Homo sapiens: one gene and its partners. The protein of the gene in region 1 purifies or fractionates together with the protein of each later gene. This does not show direct contact. Each region holds a gene or a part of one and is shown on either strand. Other genes may lie near its edges.

Region 1 (3,500 bases):
ATTTCTCCCATATCTCTCCATTTTCTGTCTGGTTTTCTCTTTGGGGTACAAGAGGCTGCAGCAGCTGCAGACCTTATATCTTGGCAACTATGAATCCCTGACAAGGGACTCCAACCCTCTGCCTGGAAACCCAAGCAAAAGTTGTGTTGATTATCATGGCTTCTTGGAGAGTCAAATATCTGTCCCTGAACCAATGAACTAACCAGCTACTGTGTCCAGGGGAATGCAACGCTCTGGTGTCAATCATCCCTGGTTGCAGGTTGACTGTGTCCAACCATCAGGAAAGTGGGTGGGAGGAGGACAAAGGAGACAAAAGGAGCTGAGTCCTGGAAACAGCATTTGAATCCCTGATCCAGCTGCTCCTGAAGTCAGCCCTACCCTAGTTTTCATGTTTTCCATTATGTGAAACTGTCTCTTTGCTTCAGCCTGTTTGGGTCTGGGTATGTGCTGTTACTTCTTTCAACAAAAGGAGTTCTGATTTAAAAGACAGATGTCCATGCACAGCAGGTTCTATATTTGTCAAAGAAAAATGTGTGTATGGTAGAAAGAGAGTGAGAAAGCGAGTCTGGAATGATATACACAAAAAGTAACAGTGGTTGCATCTGGGCAGCAGGATTAAAGGTAATTTTTCTTTTCTGTGTTCTAGTTGTGATTCAATGGGCATGAATTGCTGTGTGATGCTGGGGAGGTGTTTGTGATTCTTGACAAAGTCATTTGAATCCATCACTTCAAGAGAGTGAAAGGAGCCCCGTCTGATCTGTTGGTGTTGTAGGAAGAAACATGAGTCAGCAAAACACCAGTGGGGACTGCCTGTTTGACGGTGTCAACGAGCTGATGAAAACCCTACAGTTTGCAGTCCACATCCCCACCTTCGTCCTGGGCCTGCTCCTCAACCTGCTGGCCATCCATGGCTTCAGCACCTTCCTTAAGAACAGGTGGCCCGATTATGCTGCCACCTCCATCTACATGATCAACCTGGCAGTCTTTGACCTGCTGCTGGTGCTCTCCCTCCCATTCAAGATGGTCCTGTCCCAGGTACAGTCCCCCTTCCCGTCCCTGTGCACCCTGGTGGAGTGCCTTTACTTCGTCAGCATGTACGGAAGCGTCTTCACCATCTGCTTCATCAGCATGGACCGGTTCTTGGCCATCCGTTACCCGCTACTGGTGAGCCACCTCCGGTCCCCCAGGAAGATCTTTGGGATCTGCTGCACCATCTGGGTCCTGGTGTGGACCGGAAGCATCCCTATCTACAGTTTCCATGGGAAAGTGGAAAAATACATGTGCTTCCACAACATGTCTGATGATACCTGGAGCGCCAAGGTCTTCTTCCCGCTGGAGGTGTTTGGCTTCCTCCTTCCCATGGGCATCATGGGCTTCTGCTGCTCCAGGAGCATCCACATCCTGCTGGGCCGCCGAGACCACACCCAGGACTGGGTGCAGCAGAAAGCCTGCATCTACAGCATCGCAGCCAGCCTGGCTGTCTTCGTGGTCTCCTTCCTCCCAGTCCACCTGGGGTTCTTCCTGCAGTTCCTGGTGAGAAACAGCTTTATCGTAGAGTGCAGAGCCAAGCAGAGCATCAGCTTCTTCTTGCAATTGTCCATGTGTTTCTCCAACGTCAACTGCTGCCTGGATGTTTTCTGCTACTACTTTGTCATCAAAGAATTCCGCATGAACATCAGGGCCCACCGGCCTTCCAGGGTCCAGCTGGTCCTGCAGGACACCACGATCTCCCGGGGCTAACGGAAGGACATCCTGTTCAGGGGAAGAAAGCCCTGGCCCTGAATTCTGGTAACGGATATCGCGTTCCAGGGTTTTGATGTGGTGGGATGATCCGCACCATCTTCACTGATGTGCTTCCCTTTGATGCCCATTGAGTGCCAGCTTTGCTCATTATACCCCAAAGACCTTTTTTCCACTGCCCAGACAGCTTATACCACCCAGTGTTCAGGGATCTCTGAAGAACCCACAGACCAGGTGAATTACTGATTTCTAAGTCCAAAAACTATAGAGCAGAAGAATTGAGAAAGAGAATGAGACCATGTCAACAAGGCTGTTTCCAACTCTCCCCATTTTCCTGTTCGACTGGGAGGTTCTGGAAAGAAAGAGAGAGAGAGAAAAGAGGTAAAGGAGGGAGCCAAGAGAGTCAGTTATTGGGGAGAGTGTCTTGGGCAGAGGTGGGGTGGTAGGGATGAGTGAAGTCCCTTTTTAGTTTGGGTGTCCCAGAACAGAGCAGACTTGCATTTTCCAGTCCCTTCTGGAACTGTGTTGCCAAAAGCCTCACTGAGATGACAGCAAGAAGGGGTGGTGTTGGGGCTGGGCAAGTAGCATGGATCACCCCAAGTTTCCAGTGAGCCTCAGAAAGGTGAAGGAAGCCAGCCACACCTTTCCGTGCCCGTGAGAAGACTGCAAAATGACTGAGTGGGGTGTTGATGACATCCAAGAGCCATGAGGGGGGAGAGGAAAGGACACTTCTGGGGAAGGAAGAAGACAGGCCCAGGGCTGGAAGCACACAGCCCCTCCCCTATCACCATCAGGGTGTCCACAGCACGGAGTGTTGGTGCTGGCCCAGGGTGAAGAGAGACAGTGAGAGACGGCCTGGGAGCGGGGAGACCCCGACCTGCTTTCTATCTTAAACAGACTGGGAAGTTGCTCATTACAGCTAGCTTCCTTGAAAACAATGGCAAAGAATCAGGCCTGCCTTGGTTCCACCATAGGAGGGTGGAGGAGGTGCTGTCTTACTCACCTGCATCCTGGCTGGGCAGCTGGCACCCGTGGCACTGCCCATGGAGCCGTCCCTCCCTGGCAGCTGGGAGGGAGATGAGGCAGCTAGGCACAAGGGTGTGGCCTTGAGAAAGAAGGCAAGGGGGGGTCCCTGCTGGTCCCAGGAAACTGTAAACAATTGAGTCACGCCTGGATGGCTTCTCAACGGATCTGGAGGAGGAGTGCAAGTGACAGCGGAAGCCTCCCAATGACTCAGCTGCTCCGGAGAGTGAAATGATGAGAAGGATCCATTGTGGGGTGGTTTTGCATGACAGAGCGAGTGGGATGAGGAGTAACTGATGAGACTTCATGTGAGCAAGGTCTTCAGGAGGAAAAGCAACTGAGGTCTACTTGTAGGATCTGGGCTCAGTGGGGGCTGAAGGGCTTGGGAGGGGTGGTGACCTGAGGGGAAGAAGAGAAGCATTTGGATAAACCTGGACCTGTGGGGAGGAGGAGGAGGAAGAGGAAGAGGAAAAGGAGGGGAAGCTGAGCCGTGGCCCTAGGCTTGAAGCCTGCAGGGAGTGCAGGGTGGGTGGGGAACCTGGCTGAGCTGCTTCCTGCCTGAGAGCTTTCCCAGCTGGCCTAAGAGCCATGGACGGACAGGAGTCGCCTTCTCAGGAGCAGCTCCCGCTGTTGCTGTGTTCAAGTGGCACCCTGTACACCTCCTCCTAGGTGGATGGAGGGAAGGGTGAGGAAGAGAGCGTCAATGAAGGGGTGGAAGTGGATGTGGAGGAGTGACC
Region 2 (2,369 bases), on another chromosome or scaffold:
CCTTGGGAATGTGGCTAGTACACTCCAGGCCAGATGCTAGGCAGCTCCCTGTGTGCCCAGGGTCTTGCCAGACCTTTAGTTACTCAACCATAGCTTCCCAGTGGCTCAATGAGGGATGTTAAATCCTAGGTGGGGTTCAGGAGTAATTGCATCCAGCACTACTTTCATTCACATTTTCCTTCCACAACCCAGAATAACCACAAGATGTAAGTGGAGTCTACACAGACAGAGATGGGGAAAGGAAGGTGCTTCGTCTCCACCTACTTGGCCGCCTAATTGGATTTGCATCTGTTTAAGATTACGGAGTCTTTCTTTCAAAGTGAGAGGCAACGCCGGTCATAGCGGCTTTTGTTTTTTGTGCGTTATTTGAATGATGAGCTGTAAAAACTCTCATTAGATAAAAGGTGCCTGAAATTCAAGGGCTCATGCCTCTTCTACAAAGTGGGTTGGCAATTACAGAAATTCTTTCCCTTTTGGGTTGACTGTGGTGAAAGTACTTTTGCTCTTTTGGAGGTGAGGGAGCAGCACCACACCAGGACAGAAAGAACAGGCTCAGGTGACAGCCACTTACTCAGGCTCAGGTCGGTGGGCAAGTGGGCACTGGCCTCCTCCCATCTTGGCAAAGCCACTGACAGTAGGCAAGGAAGGGCTGGGCGGTGCTGCTCGTAACAATGGCTCTTGTATGTCCTTAGAATTTTCATTTTTTTGTGAAGTGCTTTTACTTTCTCTCTGGCTCACAGTATCGCAAGGAGCTAAGTAAGGCCTGTATGGAATCTCCACTGTATCCATGGGATGGGAGGTGCTGAACACACGCCCAAGGCAACAAGGCCACTCAGGGAAGGAGCCAGGCCATGCCACTGCGTGCCTTCCATCCTACCAAGCTGCTTCTGCTATTCTTTGCTTTACACTTCAGCTCATTTACTCAAGGAAATGAAATGAAGTGGCAAACAGGACAGAAATGAAAATAGAATTCTTTAAGTGGTAAATTTGGGACAATAAAGGCATCAATTAAAATATGGTTCAGGAATAGGGAGAGGTGCTCCTTCGTGCCTCACAGAAGCACGGACAATTCTGTGCTATTTATTGTCTTTGAAAGAGGGTTCACTCAAACCTCTGCCGCAACACCTCCAGATGCACATTCGGTGTCTTCTGTGCTGAGCTGGCAGATGCCGGGGAGGGGTGCTGTGCCCCTCACCTGCCTGCCAGTCACAGTCAAGGGTCTCCTTCAAGGTGCTCTGGGCCCATGTTCTGTAGCGACATGGGGGATGGTTGTGCCACTGCCCAGGCAGTGATCAAGCCTTTGTGACGGCCCATGGGGCTGGGCCTGCCTTGTGCTGTGCCTGCTCTGAGGCAGCTGGGGCTGTGGTGGGGAGCCAGGGCCTCATTCTGTAAACCCAGTGCTGGTTCTCTGGGAGTCTGCAGCCACAGGCACGTGGCACATATTGGTCCCTAGTTACATTAAGGGCAGGGGTAGGATTTGCATCTGTTTAAGATTACAAGGACTGGATGAGTTCTGAAAAATTCATAATTCTGAAAACCTATTAGTTTATTTAAAATAATGGATGGCATGTACCTATATATGTAGATAAGTCTCCTTTTAAATTTTTTTAAAGAACCAAAGAATCCTACAAGCCCCCGTAACACACATACTTGAGTTCCAGATACTCATCAATGCCATACTTGGACCCCTCTCGCCCAAGGCCGGACTGCTTCACTCCACCAAAAGGGCACTCCACAGAGGAAATTAATCCTTCGTTGACGCCAACCATGCCCACTTCCAGCTGCTCTGCCACTCTCCAGATCTGGGCTGGGTCTTGAGAGTAAAAATAACCTGTCACAGGATAAAAGGACATATATGGCATTTAGAAGAGTCATTAAAGACATCATGCCTAAAGATGAGGGCACCATTGATGACTTTTTGTCCAGCCACTTGGGCCTGGAGTCTTCCCTGCTCCCAGATAAAGTCCCAGGTTGGTCTTGTCCACTTTTTCATCTCAAAACCTTTGAAAGTCACCTCTTGCTTCAATTCTACTCTCACTATCTCCTATCGAGACCCTCTTCCTGTTTTCTACTATTCAATCCACCTGCACACCTGTTAGATTTCCACACGACATTTTTGCCCAAGCCTTTCGATGACTCCTGATTATAAAATAAGGTTAAATTCATTAGTGGGTATTCAACACCCTCTCCCCCACAAGTAGTTTCAATCAACATTTCTGGCTTCATCTTCCATTACTCCAATCACCAACCATCCTCTCCAAACCTGTCAGCCAAATTCTCCTCACCCTTTCTTACTTTGCTTCTCAACTCCCTTGGTGCCCTCTGCCCAGAATCTCTCTCCTCCAGCTTCTGCACAACCAGAATTCTGC
Region 3 (3,500 bases), on another chromosome or scaffold:
AGCACGTCCTCTGGGAGCCCCAGCAGCGAGGCTGCCGTCCTGACAGAGTCTGGGAGGGGCAAATCCTCTTTAGGCAAATCACTCTCCATCCAGTCCTCTTCACGAGGCACTGTGAAGTCATCACAGCGGGACCATGACTTGCCCAACTGGACAGAAGAAACCTAAGTTCTGATCAGTGAAGTGACTCACCCAAAGGACTCCATAAACAGCAGTCAGAACTCAAACCCAGCACTTTCATGTACCAGTCCATGCTGCCATGTATGGGACAAATCACTTTACAAACCTCTGACTCATTTTCTCATCTTTAAGATGGGGACGATACTGTCTGCCTCACCAGACAGGGTGAGGAGTAAATGATCCAGGGCCAGGCCCTATGGTGGGTGGCATAAGCAAGGGCATCAGATTCCAATTTTCACCATCCAGCCTTCCACCCAACCCCAGCAATGCTGGCTACCTTCCTGACAGGGCCTGCCCCATCCTACACCCTGACCCTCACACTTGGCATCATCCATCGGCTGGCAGGGCTGGGCTTCATCCTCGGAGGCAGCAAACTGGATATTGCCAAGGTGCAGCAGTCCAGCTAGGACCTGGGGGAAAGAAAAGGATGGGTGGGAGTAGGAGAGGGCGTGACGTGGGCCTACTCTGGGAAGGGCCGTTCTGCTGAGTACAATCACGACAGCAGAAGGGCAGCTCCCAATCATGGCCCAAGTGCCCATCTCTGCCAGACACAATTCTATACAAGTTACATGCATCGCCTCATTGCAACTTTTCAACAACCTGTAAGGTATGTGCTACGCCACTGCCTATGATAGAGATGAGACTGAGGACACGTGCTTCCTGAGGGGAAAGGTGGGATGAGAACCCAGGCTGACTTCAGATGTCTCCTGGGGCAGCCTGTGGGCCTCCATGCCCACCCATCCTCTACATTTCTGCCCCCTGCTCTCTAGGAATAGACTGGTGACTGGGGGCAGGGCTGCTTCTGTGTGCCTGCTGGAGGCTTGTCTCTGCTTCCTTGAGCCCTTTCCCACTGTCAGGCTTCTGAGAGCCCAGCCTGCTGGAGGCACTGTGACCTTGGTCTGTGTCCGATGGGTGCCCCTTTGCCTTTGTACTCAATGTTCCACACCGACAAGCCCCCTGGGGCTATAGACAGAAGCTCCCCTCACCCCACCAAGGCCCAGCAACTTCAAAACCCTCAGACCCAGCTAGGCATGGTGGCACACGCTTGTAATTCCAGCACTCTGGGAGGCTGAGGCAGGTGGATCACTTGAAGTCAGAAGTTTAAGACCAGCCTGACCAATATGGTGAACCTCCATCTCTACTAAAAATAAACACACACACACACACACACACACACACACACACACACACAAAATTAGCTGGGTGTGGTGGCACATGCCTGTAATCCCAGCTACTCGGAGGCTGAGGTAGGAGAATCACTTGAACCCGGGAAGAGGAGGTTGCAGTGAGCTGAGATTGTGCCACTGCACTCTAGACTGGGCAACTAGAGTAAAACTCCATCTCAAAAAAAAAAAAAAAAAAGAAAAAACCACCACCCTCAGACCTGACACAGGGACCCCACCCACCATTCCTATATGGTCCCAGGCAGGGTGCCTCCATGTGCTACTGGTCTTCCGGCCACAACTTGCTCCAGAAGACTGCCATGCCCACCAGGCAGAAGGGCTGTGGCAGAGGGTCATGCCCACCCCCAAAGCACTCCTGCCCCGACTCCCAGTGTTGTCCACTTATCCTGGGCTTGTCCCCAGGTACTGTCCTTCTGTCAAGTTCTTACCTGGCAGTGTCTGAGCAGCCCCCATCTGGAGGTGAGGGTCACTTTCCACTGCATTGCTACCTCCCTGAAGTGGCCTCCCTTTCTCGACTGCCAGGCCATCCTATCTATCCCCTCCTGCTGCTCTAGAGGGTGAGGAAGATGAGAGGAGGTAGTCAGCTCTGTCAGCAAAGACAGAAGGGAGGCCCCCCTAGTGTGACTGAGAGGAGCCCAGCTCACCTGGGGCAGTCTCATGTTCCAGAGGACGACGGGGCACGGGTTGGGGGAAGACAGAGAGGGTAGGAACTTGGAATTACTATGTCTGGTACTCTGTATCACCACTTAGTGGTATCTGACCTTGGGCACGTCACTTTACCTCTCTGGTTTTCTCAGGCATAAAGGGAAATAAACACACACAGAGGACTGTTTAAAAAACTAAGTGAGCAGAGAAGTGTGAACATGACTTGTAAGTTTTAATGTACTAGACAAGCAAGGCGGTAGCACTAGTTCTCTCTTCTGATCATGCGGTACCTTGCTCTCTGCCCCCATGGATCACTTACTGCATTCTGTACTCTAGCACTGTGTATGCATCACTCTTCCTTATGCCCCGTCCACCCCACCACCTGGTCTCCAGACTCAGCAGAACAGAGGTGACTGATTCCTTGGAGGTAGCACAGAAGGGCCCAAAGTCCTAGATCCTCAGGGAAAGACCAACTCCAAGTCCAGGGAAAAGCTCTATGCAAAGGGCTGCCCGTCATCTCTGCCAAACTTAAGTGGCGTGGCTTTTCTTCTGACCTTAAAGATGTTGTTCTGGGTAGGGGTGTCAATGCCCAAATGGAGCATGGCCTCTCTGGTCACCTCAAAACAATCCTCTGAAAAAGAATCCAAGTTCGGGGCAGAGGTCAGCAGCAGCAAGATGCGAGGGAGGCAGGCTCTGTACAGAGTGGGTGGGTGATGCTGGGTCAGCGCAAGGTGCTGGATGGGGCTCCCCTTACCTTCTAAGCTCCTCTCTGGGTTGGGCAGCCAGGAGAAGGCAGCTCCCTCAGGAAGGTGCCACTGGAGCCTCTCGTCCTCACTGGCTCCTTTGCAAATCTGTGGAGAAGGGTAGGTGGGAGGCTGGGTAGGGGGTCTGAGAAAAGCCCAGGCCTGCATAGGCAGGCATGGGGTTGGGATAAGAGGAGAGTTGGTAGCAACATCACAAGGCTCAGAGGTCCCTTCCGAGAGCCCACGGCAGGTATGGGGGCAAAAGATGCCGTAAACATAGCCCTGGATGTCTCCAACCTGATGCAAAAGAACCTTGCTCTAGGGAAACCTGCAGTCTGGTGAAAAAAGGACAACTCCTGCCCAGGGAGTCCGTCGTCTTGACGTGGGAGGCATACCCATCACCTAAGGATGCTCCGATTTTGAGAGAAAGGGAGATATCCTATCCATGCCTTGGGGGACTCCCAGTCCGATGGAAAAGGCACAACTCTAGGGAAGCCCTTGTTCTGTTAGCGACAGATGCCATTCTAGGAGAGCCCTTAAAATGATAAGAGTGACACGGCTTCCACCCTAGAGATACAGTCCCAGCCTCAAGGACCTTCTGGTCTGATGGAGGAGGTAAAACATACTCCCAGGCCACAACTGTGCTGGGAGCCAAGGCGCAGTGTGAGGCAGAAGTGCTGCATGTAAAGTCTGCAGGATAAAGTGGTGGCTCCATCAAAAGCTAGGTGAAGGAACCAGGTATGGAGCATTC
Region 4 (3,500 bases), about 11 Mb from region 1:
ATTGCATGTGACCACAGGGTTCCATAGGACACGCTTTAGTACATGCCGCGGAGGGGACGCCTGTAGCCTCCCTTGCCCGTGTCCCCATACACAGCCCATCGCCCCCTCATCGCTGAGGAGCACCGTTGAAGGATTTGGGGCCATCTGTGTGGGGCAGGCTTGCTCAGTTCTGGGTTCCCCTCCTGCCTAGGATGGTTCGTGCAGCAGCACCCGGAGCTGGAGCTCATGAGCAGCTTCCGGGAACGGTTCGGCCGCAACTGGCTGCAGTACAGGAGTCACCTGGAGCCCTCCGGAAACCCTCTGCCGGCCACCCCCACTACTTCTGCACCCAGTGCACCTCCAGCCAGCTCCCAGGGCCCCGACACTGCACCCAGACCTTCACCCCCGCAGGAGGAAGCCAGAGGCCCCCAGGAGTCACCACAGAAAATGTCAGAGGAGGTCAGGGCGGAGCCACAGGAGGAGGAAGAGGAGAAGGAGGGGAAGGAGGAGAAGGAGGAGGGGGAGATGGTGGAACAGGGAGAAGAGGAGGCAGGAGAGGAGGAAGAAGAGGAGCAGGACCAGAAGGAAGTGGAAGGTGAGCCCTTTGTGGGCTGGGGCGAGCTGAGGCCAGGGGCCCTTGGGATGTTTGTGAGTGGTGGGGCCTGGCGGGTGGAGGGCCAGTTCGGGGGAGGGCAGAGTGTGGGTACTTTCCCTCCCTGCAGGCCTTTTCTCTTGGTCTCTCCACAGCGGAACTCTGTCGCCCCTTGTTGGTGTGTCCCCTGGAGGGGCCTGAGGGCGTACGGGGCAGGGAATGCTTTCTCAGGGTCACTTCTGCCCACCTGTTTGAGGTGGAACTCCAAGCAGCTCGCACCTTGGAGCGACTGGAGCTCCAGAGTCTGGAGGCAGCTGAGATAGAGCCGGAGGCCCAGGCCCAGAGGTCGCCCAGGCCCACGGTGAGTGGGGCGTGGCAGGGTCTCTGGAGGAGCCAGTTATGGGAACATGGCTGTTGTGTGCCCTGCACTGGGCTGGGCATTTCTTTCAGTCTCTCCTTGGCACTAGGAGCCGAGGAGGGGAGCCTCAGAGGTTGCAAGCACTCGGGAAGCTGGGCTGAGGAGCAGGGATTCTGTGCTGGAGCTTGGACGTCAGTACAGGCCTTTGACAGGCTTCAGAGGTCCTGCCATCCTCCATGCTCTCAGCATCCCCTCATCCCTCTGATCACCGCCCCTGCTGTTTTTCACCCGGTCCCCCTCTTGCTGCGCAGGGCTCAGATCTGCTCCCTGGAGCCCCCATCCTCAGTCTGCGCTTCTCCTACATCTGCCCTGACCGGCAGTTGCGTCGCTATTTGGTGCTGGAGCCTGATGCCCACGCAGCTGTCCAGGTGATGGCGCCCAGAGTGGGGGCCCAGGAGGCTGTGGGGATTAAGAGAGCCAGAGGGAAGTGGCAGCAGGCCTGAGGGCCGGGGGCCTGTGGGAGGTGTCCGTCTGGGGTCCGCCTGCTCACAGCTGCCTCTGATCCACCCTCTGTCAGGAGCTGCTTGCCGTGTTGACCCCAGTCACCAATGTGGCTCGGGAACAGCTTGGGGAGGCCAGGGACCTCCTGCTGGGTAGATTCCAGTGTCTACGCTGTGGCCATGAGTTCAAGCCAGAGGAGCCCAGGATGGGATTAGACAGTGAGGAAGGCTGGAGGCCTCTGTTCCAAAAGACAGGTACAAGTCCTGCCCTTGACCTCTCTGCCCACACGCCTCCCCTGTTCCAGGGAAAGTGGCTCTGTGTAGGGGAGTGTGAAGGGGGAGCCCTAGGGAGAAGGGGCTAGAGTGGAGAGCAGTTGTTCTGCCTGGAGGAAAAAGAAAACCGTCTGCCTGCTGCATTTACAAAAAGGAAAACAGAAAAAAAGAAGAAACTATATCCTGTTTTTTTTTTTTTTTTAACTCTAAAAGTCAGGAAATGCAATCTCTGTAACTGTGCTTAAACATACTCATTATTTTTTCATAACTTGAAGGCTTGTTGTGTTGGGGATTTTTTGGCTGATATTTCAGACACTACATAAAACCTAATGAGCCCTCACTGCAGTATTGGATTGTGGTGCTGCCTCTGCCAGCAAGTGTAGCTGTTGAGTGAGATGCTTGGGGAGTTGGCTTGGTTTATCCTTCCCGGCTGACCTTGGAAGGTACATAATGTCCTGTGGCATTTCTTCATGCGCTAGTCCTTAAAACAAGAATTGTTTCCATTGTAGACCAGTCAGCACTATCTTTGAAGAAGACATTGAAGAAGAAATAAATATTCTTGATAACAGCTCTGTGGAAATGCCAGAATTTTATTAGACGGTTTTCTCTTCTTGGCGGCAGCTGGAGCAGGGGTTTAGATTTTATTCAGAAAATGGAGCCCTGCTCCATTCCCCACTGTGAACTGGCCTGGGCATGCAGCCTTAGTGACACAGCGCAAACAGAAACAGCCCCCAGCCCCTCCCGGACCCTGGCTGTACACCATGAGGTGCTGTGGTCTCTGGAGCCTCTTCCATGGTGGCGTTATTAATGAACATTACTGTGGGCTCTGTTCTCCTTTAATTTTTTTTTTTCTTTTTTTTTTGAGACGGAGTCTCGCTCTGTTGCCCAGGCTGGAGTGCAGTGGCACAACCTTGGCTCACTGCAAGCTCTGCCTTCCGGGTTCACGCCATTCTCCTGCCTCAGCCTCGCAAGTAGCTGGGACTACAGGCGCCCACCACCACACCCAGCTAATTTTTTGTATTTTTAGTAGAGATGGGGTTTCACCGTGTTAGCCAGGATGGTCTGTCTCCTGACCTCGGATCTGCCCACCTTGGCCTCCCAAAGTGCTGGGATTACAGGCGTGAGCCACCACGCCCGGCCAACCATTCTCCTTTCACTTGCACCTCAGTTACCTCCTCTGAACAAAGAAGGGAATGAACTCACCCCATGGTGCTGTTACGCTATTTAAATGTGACAGTAAGGCACCAAGCAGAGGGCCTGGCACAACACAAAGGTCTCCTGTAAATGGTAGCTGCTGCCGTTGTCCCCAGCTGTATGGTCCTGGGCAGCATGTGTAAATGATTTAATATTTTCTTTCTTCTTTGCAAAATGGGATAGGGAGAGTTTCTCTGGTGATGAAATGCGATCATAGTGGCATAGGAGGTAGCGCATGCCCATCACGGTGTAGCTGCTCAGAGTGCTGCCTCTCTCATTGCTGATCCATGTCCTGATTCCTTCCCAGCTTCCTGACACTAAGGATGAGTATAAGATAGATGCTATTGTCATCCCTGTTTTATAGACGAGGAACCAGGCTCACAGAGCTTAGATGACTTGCCCATGATTACAGAGCCATTAATTGATGGAGCCTGGAATTGGACCGAAATTTGGCAACAGAGTTCTCTGCCTTTCCAGACCTGTTGATTTTGGTCTTTCAGACGTTGCTAGGAGAGCCCTGAAGTACTTGATCAGCCCAAGTCTGTAAGAGGGCATAAGAGCAGGTCCTGGTTGTGTTTGGCCCAGTCTGAGAGGGCCTAGAGTT
Region 5 (3,500 bases), on another chromosome or scaffold:
TCACTGCAACCTCTGCCTCCTAGGCTCAAGTGATCCTCCCATCTCAGCCTCCTGACAGTCCCACAGGCGTGCATCACCATGCACAGCTAATTTTTTTATATTTTTGGTAGAGACAGGGTTTCACCATGTTGCCCAGGCTGGCCTTGAACTCCTGAGCTCAAGTATCTGCCCGCCTTGGCCTCCCAAAGTGCTGGGATTACAGGTGTGAGCCACTGTGCCCGACAGTCTTTTTTTTTTTTTTTTTTTTGAGAGAGGGTCTTGCTCTGTCACCCAGGCTGGTACAATCATGGCTCACTGTAGCCTCGACCTCCCCCAGTTCAGGTGATCCTCCCACCTCAGCCTCCTGAGTAGCTGCAACCACAAGAGCAGAACCACACCTGGCTAATTTTTGTGTTTTTTTTGTACAGACAAGGATTTGCCATGTTGCCCAGGCAGGGTCTCAAGCAATCTGCCCACTTAGGCCTCCCAAGGCACTAGAATCATAGGTGTGAGCCTCTGCACCAGGCCCAAGAACCCAAGTCTTTTACCTTTCAGGTGAAAGGGTGGGAGTGGGGGAAGGCGGGGCCCCCAGGGACAAGGCTTCAGGGGCCAAGCAGCCATGGGCTGAGGGATGTTACCTTTCAAGAACTTTGGGAACAGCATGTCCAACACTTCGTGTGTCTCCTTGACGACGACCCAGCTCTCTTTCTTAGGACCTGGGTACGGGGGTGCAGAACCAGAAGCTCTGTGTCCTCCAGCAGGACAGAGTTTGTCCTCTCTCCTCCCCACCCTGAGGCATCAGCAGTCTAAATCTTGAGGCACTTACCTGCCCGCACCCGGTTCCTCAGCTCCTCCAGCTCTGCTGGAAGGGGTCCATCTCCCTGCAGGGCCCCAAGCATCAGCCCATGTGTGGCGGCCCTTAGGATGGTCTTGGGGCCTGCCTTCTGGTTCAGAACTACCTGTACCTGGTCTGGAGGGACCCAGAGACAGACTGGTATCAGGGAAGGGCCACCTCCCAAACCCCTTCTATCCCATCACCCTGCTTCCCCTGTCTGCCCCAAGACCTTGGCCTGGCACGGAAGGCTAGCACCTCACCCTTTCCTTTCCAATTCATCTCCTGTTGCTCCCCAATGTTCGGGCCAAACTGACCAATTTCCAAATACAATTTCCCAGCCGCTCACTGGGCTGGGTCTATTTTGCATTTCTTTAATGGCTAGTGAGAATAAGCACCTTTTCACACTCAACCAGCGGACCAGCACACTCAAGGACTTGTTTACCCAAGAGGCAACCCAGGATGGAGAGAAGGGTGGTTTCCCACGGACAGCAAAGGTCATAGCCTTCCTAAGAGTGCTGCAATGTAGCTTTGCAGTCACATTATTTGATCCTCATAAAAACACCGCAAGGAATAAGGCAGGTACTGTTAGCTCTGTTTTACAAAGCGGTGACATGAATTTCACTGGGGCATTGCAGCTGTAATTTGAACGGTCTAGAGCAACCCCCAGAACAGGCAGCCTCCAAACTGCCCAGAGCTCGGGGCCCTAGGTTGGAGGAATGAGAGGCTGACCTGGGAGGGTGCGTCTTAGGCTGGGAGAATGAGGCACACTCACTTTGTGACTGGTCCCAGCAGAGGAGGTAGGATTCTTGGTGCCCCTCAACCAGCTGCTGCAGCTCAAAGACACTGTGGGGGAGAGGACAGTGCAGTGGGGGTGGAGGACAGCAAAGGCAGGCATGCCCAACCAGCCACTGAACAGCCACCCAGTGAACTGAAATGATCCAGGCTTCACTCAGGTCCCCTCGCTTCCTCTCTCCCTCAGCCATTACCCATACACACCAAATCCATCCTTTCTTCCTGTATCCAGTCATCCAACTTCCCCATCTACCCATCCTTCCTTCACCCATCAAGCACATCTCTTACATCTGCTTCATGTTATACACCCTTTCCTTCCTCACACACCCACACCAACCCCATGTCTGTTCAGCAGCAATGAAGAACCCAGGACAGAGAGGTGGGGCCTTGCCAGGGAGGCCAGTGTGTAATCGGAGTGAGGGGAGTGTGGGTGGCGGTGGTGACGAGCGGGAGACGCTAGGCCACTCACCTGGAGACCAAGCGGTGTAAGGGGACCCCCAGGGATAGAGACGGAGCTGGCCAGAAACCTGTGGGAAGCTGGGGTCAGGATGCCTAGGCAGTGGGAGAGGTTGAGACACAGGACCCGAGACCAGGGGCAGGGTCACCTGTCCACAGCGGCTCCATGCGATTGGCTGCAGTTGGGTCGAGTACCTCTCCCCTCTGAAGGTAGTGCTTCAGGACCAGCCGGAGCCGGCCTTCGTTCAAGGTCTCCATGACCAGGGCTCGGACCGCGCGGTAGTTGGCGTAGATGTGGAGGGCAGTGAGGAAGAAGAAACATCCAAGGCTGAAGCTGGGGTGAGAGAGTGAGGTAGCTGAAGTGGGCAGAGGCCCAGCTGGGGTTCTCCTGCCCACCCTGCTTCCGGCTTACCCAGGGCAACCTGACACCAGAGGGAGCATCAGGAGGCTGACCAAGAGCCCCGCCAGGTTCACCAGCGTCTCCTGGAAAATGGCAGAGGGAGAAGGAGTTGGAAGGTGCCCCTCCAGGCCAGACTGAGTGCCCGAGTGCCTTTCACCTCATCCTCCCTGCTCCACAACCTCCCAGGGCTCCTTACTGCAATGTGGGTAAATTTTTAGTTTTTGGTGGGTGAAATGTCATTTAAAAGATGCCAGCTCGAGGTGGCTCACACCTGTAGTACCAGCACTTTGGGAGGCTGAGGTGGGCAGATCACTTGAGTCCAGGAGCTTGAGACCAGCTTGGGCAACATAGTGGGACCCTATTTCTACAAAAAAATTAAAAATTTGGTGGGGCATAGTGGCTCGCGCCTGTAATCCTAGCAATCTGGGAGGCCGAGGTGGGCAGATTCCCTGAGCTCAGGAGTTCAAGACCAGCTTCGGCAACACGGTGAGACCCATTGCATTTTTGTAAAAATACAAAAAACTAGCCAGGTATGGTGGCGCGTGCCTCTACTCCCAGCTACTCAGGAGGCTGAACTGCTTGAGCCTGGGAGGTGGAGGTTGCAGTGAGCTGAGATCACGCCACTTCACTCCAGCCTGGGCAACAGAGCAAGACTGTCTCCAAAAAAGAAAAAAAAAAAAATTAAGCCATGATTGCACCACTGTACTCCAGCCTGGGAGACACAGTGATACCCTGTCTAAATACATATGTGTATCAGTTGCTTTTTTGCCCAGGTAGGTGCCCTCGGAATACCCTTGAACACATCTTGTCTTGCAAGTCACCAGAACAGACCCACACTCAGGCACTCACTAATGTGTACTTTTTTTTTTTTTTAAAGAGCGAGGGTCTCGCTCTGTCACCCAGGCTGGAGTGCAGTGGTGCAATCATAACTCACAGCCACCTCAAACTCCTGAGCTCAAGTGATCCTACCACCACGCCTCTGCTAATTATTACTGCATTTTTTGGTAAAGATGGGTCTTGCTATATTGCCCAGGCTGA
Region 6 (3,500 bases), about 61 Mb from region 1:
GCATGGTGGTGGGCGCCTGTAGTCCCAGCTACTCAGGAGGCTGAGGCAAGAGAATTGCTTGAACCAGGGAAGCAGAGGTTGCAGTAAGCAGAGATAGTGCCACTGCACTCCAGCCTGGGCAACAGAGTGAGACTCTGTCTCAAAAAAACAAAAAAAAAAAGAAAAGAAAAACAAAGTAGAACATAAACAGTGGCTTAAGCATTAATTCCTTATTTCTTCAAAACAACTGGTAGATTAAAGAAGAAAACCATTTTTCCTTAGAAAAAAATAGGTGCTTGTGAATGACAACAAACTTAACGTCGTAAATTTCAGAAAAGATACCTTTTAATCAGACATGAGTTTCTGCTTTCCATATCTCCCATTGCTCCCAACACTGCCAGGGCTTGCTCGCCAGTTAGGTCCTCTGACATCAATAACATAGTTGATTTAAGTCTAGAAGCAAAAAAAAAAAAGTTTTTGGTTGAAAGACTGAAAATTAGCTTGCAATTTTTTTTAAATAACAGTTCTTGGGTAACAAATAGGAAAAAAAATATAAACAAAAACTGAATCCAATATATAATTCTAGTGTTCTCCCCACATTACTCGAATATAAAATATTACTGAATAAAGAAAAATATATTGTCTTCTTCAATGAAATTCAGGCCTCATTATAATCCAATCTTAAACTGTTTGAAAAATACAGGTAAAAGATATTTTAAGATTTTCAAATAATACAAGGTTATAATGGTTATAAAATACTATGATTCAGTGAAATTATTCAATACTAGAGAGCTAAGAAATGAACAGTTGATATTCTGACAATTTCCCAAATGTTTTAAAACTGAATAGGAACATCTAGGAGTCAATAAACCTGCATATTATCAGAAATCTCATATACTAAGCACTTGATATAACAGTATAAACTGAAAATTAACAAAGCTGGTCCATTTTGACTATGATTAGTTGTCATTTGAACTATCCAAAGTAGTGCAGTAATGTTAAGTACCATGATACGTGTATTTTTTAGAATCATTTAGAAAGCAAGCTCGAAACGTGACATCTGATAGGATAAACTAATTGTCTATTCACATGGATAACTCCATGCCATCCTTTCCACCAACCTTTTCAAAGGTTTCAAACCCAGTTTCTCCACAAACTTTTCCCAACCACTTCAGTCTATATTTTTCTCTCACTTCTGTCTGCTCACAGCACTATCCATATCACTAATTTTATTGTTTCTTCATAAACTATGTTGTTACAGTATTTACATATTTCAATTATATCTATCCTCTCAATTGCAATATAAATTCCTTGAAGACAGACTCAGTTAAACCCAACTGTTTTATTGCTTTAGCACTGAGATTTTAACAGTACTTGGTGACAAAAAACGGTTCCAATAAAGTTTGTTCGTGTGTGTGTTTCTTCGTCTGTTTTGAGATGGAGTCTCACTCTGTTGCCCAGGCTGGAGTGCAGGAGCATGATAGCTCACTGCAACCTCCGCCTCCCAGGTTCAAGCGATTCTCCTGCCTCAGCCTCCAGAGTAGCTGGGATTAGAGATGCCCACCATTGCACCTGCCATCACTCCCGGCTAATTATTTTTTGTATTTTTTTGTTTGTTTTTTGAGACAGAGTTTCGCTCCTGTTGCCCAGGCTGGAGTGCAATGGCGCAATCCTGGCTCACTGCAACCTCAGTCTCCCAGGTTCAAGCGATTCTCCTGCCTCAGCCTCCCAAGTAGCTGAGATTACAGGTGCCCACCACCACGCCCGGCTAATTTTTTATATTTTTACTAGAAACGGGGTTTCACCATGTTGGCCAGGCTGGTCTCGAACTCCTGACCTCAAGTGATCCAACCGCCTCAGCCTCCCAAGGTGCTGGGATAACAGGCATGAGCCACCACACCCGGCCCTTTTTTTTTGTATTTTTAGTAGAGTCGGGGTTTCACCATGTTGGCCAGGCTGGTCTCAAACTCCCGACTTCAAGTGATCTGCCAGCATTGGCCTCCCAAAGTGCTGAGATTACAGGTGTGAACCACCGTGCTGGGCCCCAATAGTTTTTTTTAATAATCACCTTGTTTCCATCTTGATATAGTCTTAAGATGTGCTCTTAAATTTTTTCATATAATTCAAAGTACTTTTTTTTTTTTTTTGAGTCAGAGTTTCGCTCTTGTTGCCCAGGCTGGAGTGTAATGGCGCGATCTTGGCTTACTGCAACCTGCACCTCCCGGGTTCAAGCGATTCTCCTGCCTCAGCCTCCCGAGTAGCTGGGACTACAGGCGCTGCCATCATGCCCGACTTATCTTGTATTTTTAGTAGAGACGGGGTTCCTCCATGTTGGTCTGGGTGGTCTTGAACTCCCGACCTCAGGTGATCCACCTGCCTTGGCCTCCCAAAGTGCTGGGATTACAGGCATGATCCACCGCACCCAGCCACAAAGTACTCTTAAAAAATAAAACTTTCTCCGTAAAGTTTTCCCTAACAGAGTAATGATACAGATTCCCCTATTGTGCAAGTCTTGGAACCCCTGCTTAAGTGAATCTACTAATCATACTTATGTGTTAGGACTATTATATAAAATTCTTATTTTTTTCTTTTATTTTTTCTTTTGAGACAAGGTTTCATTCTGTGCCCAGGCTGGAATTCAATGGCGCAATGTCAGTTCACTGCAGGCTCAACCTCCTTGGGCTCAGGTGATCCTCATGAGTAGCTGGGAATCTAGGTGGGCACCACCACATCTGGCTAATTTTGTATTTTTTTGTACAGACAAGGTTTCATCATCTTGCCTAGGCTGGTCTCAAATTCCTGGGATCCAGGGATCCACCTGCCTCGGCCTCCCAAAGTGATGGGATTAAAGGCGTGCAACGCCGTGCCCAGCTTGTAATTCTAAATATTTCATACAATTATGCTGGGTGGGGGAAGTTTATGTCTAGTATAAATCCAGTCACATGGCCTAGGAAGAGAAACTCTTATCTATTAACCGTATTTGTATGTTAATTTAATATTTGCTCATCATTATATTTCAAATATTACTACCTACATCAGTATCTAGCAAAACTGGAAATTCCTAAATGAGAGGCGCCACACAAAATTTGCTCAAACCTGACATGGGAACATATGCCCAGTGCATAATAAATGCTTTGATGATTATTGTGATGAAGACAGCAAAGCATAAAATGGCCCTCTGCTATGACTACTATAATTCTAAATATTCCACAGACTTACACTGGGTGGGGGAGTCTTATATGTGTAAATCCAGTCATGTAGCACAAAAGGGAGAATAAAAACACATGGCGTTTCCCCTCATTTTTTTTCATGTTGGCCCAGTATCAGAGGTTTACCTTTCAGAACACAGCAACAGACTAAGAGTTTGAGATGTAAATTAGAATAATCAGAAAAAGAATCAAGGAGCAGAGCATAAGAGATTATTTTCCCTTCCACAACCTAATAGGGTGATATTTGTACCTTCCAGAGCTGCAAGGAGACCTAAGCTTGAAGGCTCCACGTATTCACAACAAAAAAAGTAA
Region 7 (3,500 bases), on another chromosome or scaffold:
CCCCCCAAAATCTGTGAATCAAGATGAGGTCATACTGGATTAGGGTGGGCCCTAAACCTAAATCCAATAAGACTGGAGTCCTTATAAGAATAGGAAAATGTGGGTCAGAGAGACACACAGGGAGACCACCACGTGATGACAGAGGCAGAGATTGAAGTGACGCACCTACAAGCTGAGGGACACCAAGGATGGTGGACAACCACCAGAAGAAGCTGGAAGAGGCAAGGGAAGAGCCTCCCTGAGAGTCTTTCGAGAGAGCATGGCCCTGCTGACGCCTTGATTTCAAGACTTCTAACTTCCAGAACTGTGAAAGAATAAATATCTGCTGTAAAACCCACTTTGTGGTAATTTGTTATGGCAGCCCTAAGGAATTAACATAACCCCTCCCTCAATTTTCCCCATCCTCTCTCTTCCCTTTCCATTCTATTTTCCCCAAAATTATAGTCTTTCTTTTCTTATCAAGTATAGGAAAAGAATTGCATTATCTTTTAATATTCAGCACATTATATATAATCTAACATTATGTATTATAAATGGTTTTTAATTTTCACTTCTAAATACTTTCAGAAATTATACTTTAAAGTATAATTATTAAGAGTTAATCCACTACATGTTTTATCTCTCAATCAGAACTTAGCCAAAATTTATTTTCAGACCAAATGTCAATTTACCAAGACTCACATAGCATGCTGAATCAAAAAAGTGAAGGTGGTCAGGTGTGGTGGCTCACGTCTATAATCCCAGCACTTTGGGAGGCCAAGGTGGGTGGATCACTTGAGGTCAGGAGTTCGGGACCAGCCTGGCCAACATGGTGAAACCCTGTCTCTTCTAAAAATTACAAAAATTAGCAGGTGTGGTGGCATATGTCCGCAATCCCAGCTACTTTGGAGCCTGAGGCACAAGAATCGCTTGAACCTGGGAGGCAAAGGTTACAGTGAGCCAAGATTGAGCCACTGCACTCCAGCCTAGGTGACAAAGCGAGACTCTGTCTCAAAAAAACAAAACAAAACAAAATGAAGGTACCTAGATCAACTTTTCTTTCCTTTTCTTTTTTTTTTTTTTTTTTTGAGTCAGGAACTCCTGGGCTGAAGCAATCCTTCTGTCTCAGCCTCCCAAGGTGCTGGGATGACATGCATGAGCCACCACACCCAGTTTGGATCAACTTTTTGCCAAGAAATTATCCTGAGGTAGCAATAAGGTCGTGTTGAATTTTATAATAATTCTAATTTTATTCAACAACAAATTTAATTTCCAATATATATGGTATTCTTCTTTTAGAGCATAATTTAAGGACCACTATTAGAAAGTTAAATGACCAACAAAATCAGTATTAAAATGTTTGTAGTGAAAGAGCAATTTATTACACAGATGAAGTAGCTATGCTCCTCAGATTATGCCTTGCTATTCCAGGACCAGTAAATATAGTAATAAAGCTAATATCTTAACCAAGGGATAGAAAAGAAATTATGGATGTCTACAGTTCTTACACTGCACTTGATTAGAAGAACAAAAATATTCTAACACGCTGCTCTATGAAATGAATTCTCAAAAAAGAATTGGGTCAGGTCCACTATTTCCAAAGGGAAAAAGGACAACTGAATAAAAACTGGAGGAAAAATTTTCTAATTGTAATAAATTTTAAAATTCTTATTGAAAACCAAAGCTAAAGGTTATCATCTACTACATACACACAACACACACACATACACACACACATTCTAACATGTATATCAATATACTTTTCCCAAAAGTTATAGATTAGAATTAATCTGGACAGTTCACATCTCAAAAAGAAAATAGAAACAACCCATCAAAAACTCCTTAACAACAGTGACACTAAAGCCATTATACTGGCCTACAAAACAGAATTAACAGAGAGAAGAAAGGTTGCTTATTATGCCCGCAAGCTGATGCAACAAACTATTTTATCCTTCTGTGTCTTCATTTTCTCACTTATGAAACAATAATATCATTAATGCTACGTAAACATGTTGCAAAAATGAGGAAGATCTAATTGACAGTACCATAGAGATCCTGAGTAATGGGATTAAAGTCACTTTTGGAATCACTAGTAACTAAAAGAGCCCTATGCCTACTGTGTCATATGAAAATCAGTCTAATAGTAAAGATTAAAGAGCCAGCTGGGCACAGTGCCTCATACCTGTAATCCCAGCACTCTGGGAGGCCGAGGCAGGAGGACCCCTTGAGGCCAGGAGTTCAGGACCAGTCTGGGCAACAAAGTGAGATCTGTCTCTATAAAAAAATTTAAAATTAGCTGGGTGTGGTGGCATGTACCTGTGGTCCTAGCTACTCTAGGGGCTAAGGCAGAGGATCTCTTGGGCTCAGAAGCTCAAGGCTGTAGTGAGCTGTGATCATGCCACTACACTCCAGTCTGGTTGACATATATAGACACTCTCTCTAAAAACAAACAAACAACAACAACAAAAAACAAATAAAAAATTAGAGAGCCAAAATAATCCATAAGTGAATTTCACATAGCTGGAGAACTGTGGCTTTCAGCAGTCCAGGTTTGAGGCAGACAGGATTGGATTCATCCAAGGGAGGGTGTTAGTTCATTAAAAGTGGCCATGAGAGAGTGGCTTAAAGTACTGATTAATGGAGTGGAGACTGGTGAGGAAAAGCAGCCTTGCAAACAAACAGCTGACTACCTAGAAAAGAGAGGGAGGGAGGGCAATCATACATAGAGATGCTGATGCCACCCCCATCTCCATAACATTCTAGTCAAGCTTCCCAAGGGAAGGCCCAGACTTTTGAAAAACCTCCTAATACATACTTCTAAATAAGAACCACTGGAATTGAAGTGCTGATAAGTTTAATTTTATTTTTTTTTAAGCAAGTACATTGTACACACTAGGAAATCATGGTCAGTGTCCCTTTGACTCTTAAATTTTAAGAGGTTAAAATTTGAGAAAGCAAGGCTCAAGAGGTAGCTTTTGGAGGGGTTACATAACTAAAATAATAATAGTAGCAGATATTATTAAATAGATATATAAATAATAATCTTAATAGCTAACATTTATGGAATGTTTATTATGTGCCATGCACTAGTACTTAGTAATAGAAAATAATTTACATTATTTTCTGATTTAATCTTCACAAAATTCCAAATATGCAGATAGTATCATCCCCAATATGCAAATGAGGAAAATGAGGCACAAAAGGTTAAGCACTGTTTTCAAACTTACATAGTTAGGAAGTAGGGGAACTGGGATTCAAAACCACAATATCATATTGTCACTGCTGGCATGCTTCATGTCAAAGAACCTTAAGGACAGGAACTTGGATAAATGCCCTTGCAGCCCCTAAAGTTGCCCATGATTATGCCAGGGAATAGGGTGGACAAGCCAAGTCCCAAAGTCCTCAACAAATAAGGATGGTGGATGGCAACAATAAGGAGGGGTAGAGAGGTATATAGCCAAATAATCAAGCATTTTTCTCAATGACAGTTGAATAATAACCAGGTCTAAAGGGGCAGGTAT

Evidence for each region.
Region 2: the proteins of GPR55 (region 1) and ALDH5A1 purify together in Homo sapiens (affinity purification with mass spectrometry; one large-scale study listed by BioGRID and IntAct). This does not show direct contact.
Region 3: the proteins of GPR55 (region 1) and MYO19 purify together in Homo sapiens (affinity purification with mass spectrometry; one large-scale study listed by BioGRID and IntAct). This does not show direct contact.
Region 4: the proteins of GPR55 (region 1) and STK11IP purify together in Homo sapiens (affinity purification with mass spectrometry; one large-scale study listed by BioGRID and IntAct). This does not show direct contact.
Region 5: the proteins of GPR55 (region 1) and RUSF1 purify together in Homo sapiens (affinity purification with mass spectrometry; one large-scale study listed by BioGRID and IntAct). This does not show direct contact.
Region 6: the proteins of GPR55 (region 1) and FASTKD1 purify together in Homo sapiens (affinity purification with mass spectrometry; one large-scale study listed by BioGRID and IntAct). This does not show direct contact.
Region 7: the proteins of GPR55 (region 1) and LPGAT1 purify together in Homo sapiens (affinity purification with mass spectrometry; one large-scale study listed by BioGRID and IntAct). This does not show direct contact.

The regions. Positions count from the first base shown.
Region 1 is NC_000002.12:230,908,243-230,911,742, reverse strand, and holds part of GPR55 (G-protein coupled receptor 55), read left to right. Parts: intron 1-646; 5' UTR 647-780; coding exon 781-1,740; 3' UTR 1,741-3,500. UniProt on the Homo sapiens protein: G-protein coupled receptor that binds to several ligands including 2-arachidonoyl lysophosphatidylinositol or lysophosphatidylglucoside with high affinity, leading to rapid and transient activation of numerous intracellular signaling pathways.
Region 2 is NC_000006.12:24,532,969-24,535,337, reverse strand, and holds part of ALDH5A1 (succinate-semialdehyde dehydrogenase, mitochondrial isoform 2 precursor), read right to left. Parts: intron 1,832-2,369; coding exon 1,626-1,831; 3' UTR 1-1,625. UniProt on the Homo sapiens protein: Catalyzes one step in the degradation of the inhibitory neurotransmitter gamma-aminobutyric acid (GABA).
Region 3 is NC_000017.11:36,510,869-36,514,368, forward strand, and holds part of MYO19 (unconventional myosin-XIX), read right to left. Parts: intron 2,858-3,500; coding exon 2,761-2,857; intron 2,638-2,760; coding exon 2,561-2,637; coding exon of another isoform or gene 2,501-2,560; exon of another isoform or gene 2,218-2,500; intron 2,016-2,217; coding exon of another isoform or gene 2,006-2,015; intron 1,912-2,005; coding exon of another isoform or gene 1,790-1,911; intron 588-1,789; coding exon 497-587; coding exon of another isoform or gene 491-496; intron 50-490; coding exon 1-49. UniProt on the Homo sapiens protein: Actin-based motor molecule with ATPase activity that localizes to the mitochondrion outer membrane. Motor protein that moves towards the plus-end of actin filaments. Required for mitochondrial inheritance during mitosis.
Region 4 is NC_000002.12:219,607,857-219,611,356, forward strand, and holds part of STK11IP (serine/threonine-protein kinase 11-interacting protein), read left to right. Parts: intron 1-190; coding exon 191-574; intron 575-726; coding exon 727-932; intron 933-1,240; coding exon 1,241-1,357; intron 1,358-1,506; coding exon 1,507-1,684; intron 1,685-2,014; coding exon of another isoform or gene 2,015-2,025; exon of another isoform or gene 2,026-2,270; intron 2,271-3,396; exon of another isoform or gene 3,397-3,500. UniProt on the Homo sapiens protein: May regulate STK11/LKB1 function by controlling its subcellular localization.
Region 5 is NC_000016.10:31,491,392-31,494,891, forward strand, and holds part of RUSF1 (RUS family member 1), read right to left. Parts: intron 2,546-3,500; coding exon 2,475-2,545; intron 2,397-2,474; coding exon 2,212-2,396; intron 2,134-2,211; coding exon 2,076-2,133; intron 1,658-2,075; coding exon 1,587-1,657; intron 950-1,586; coding exon 806-949; intron 696-805; coding exon 618-695; intron 1-617.
Region 6 is NC_000002.12:169,556,866-169,560,365, forward strand, and holds part of FASTKD1 (FAST kinase domain-containing protein 1, mitochondrial), read right to left. Parts: exon of another isoform or gene 2,059-3,500; coding exon of another isoform or gene 2,048-2,058; intron 433-2,047; coding exon 322-432; intron 1-321. UniProt on the Homo sapiens protein: Involved in the down-regulation of mitochondrial MT-ND3 mRNA levels which leads to decreased respiratory complex I abundance and activity.
Region 7 is NC_000001.11:211,796,264-211,799,763, forward strand, and holds part of LPGAT1 (acyl-CoA:lysophosphatidylglycerol acyltransferase 1), read right to left. Parts: intron 1-3,500. UniProt on the Homo sapiens protein: Lysophospholipid acyltransferase involved in fatty acyl chain remodeling of glycerophospholipids in the endoplasmic reticulum membrane.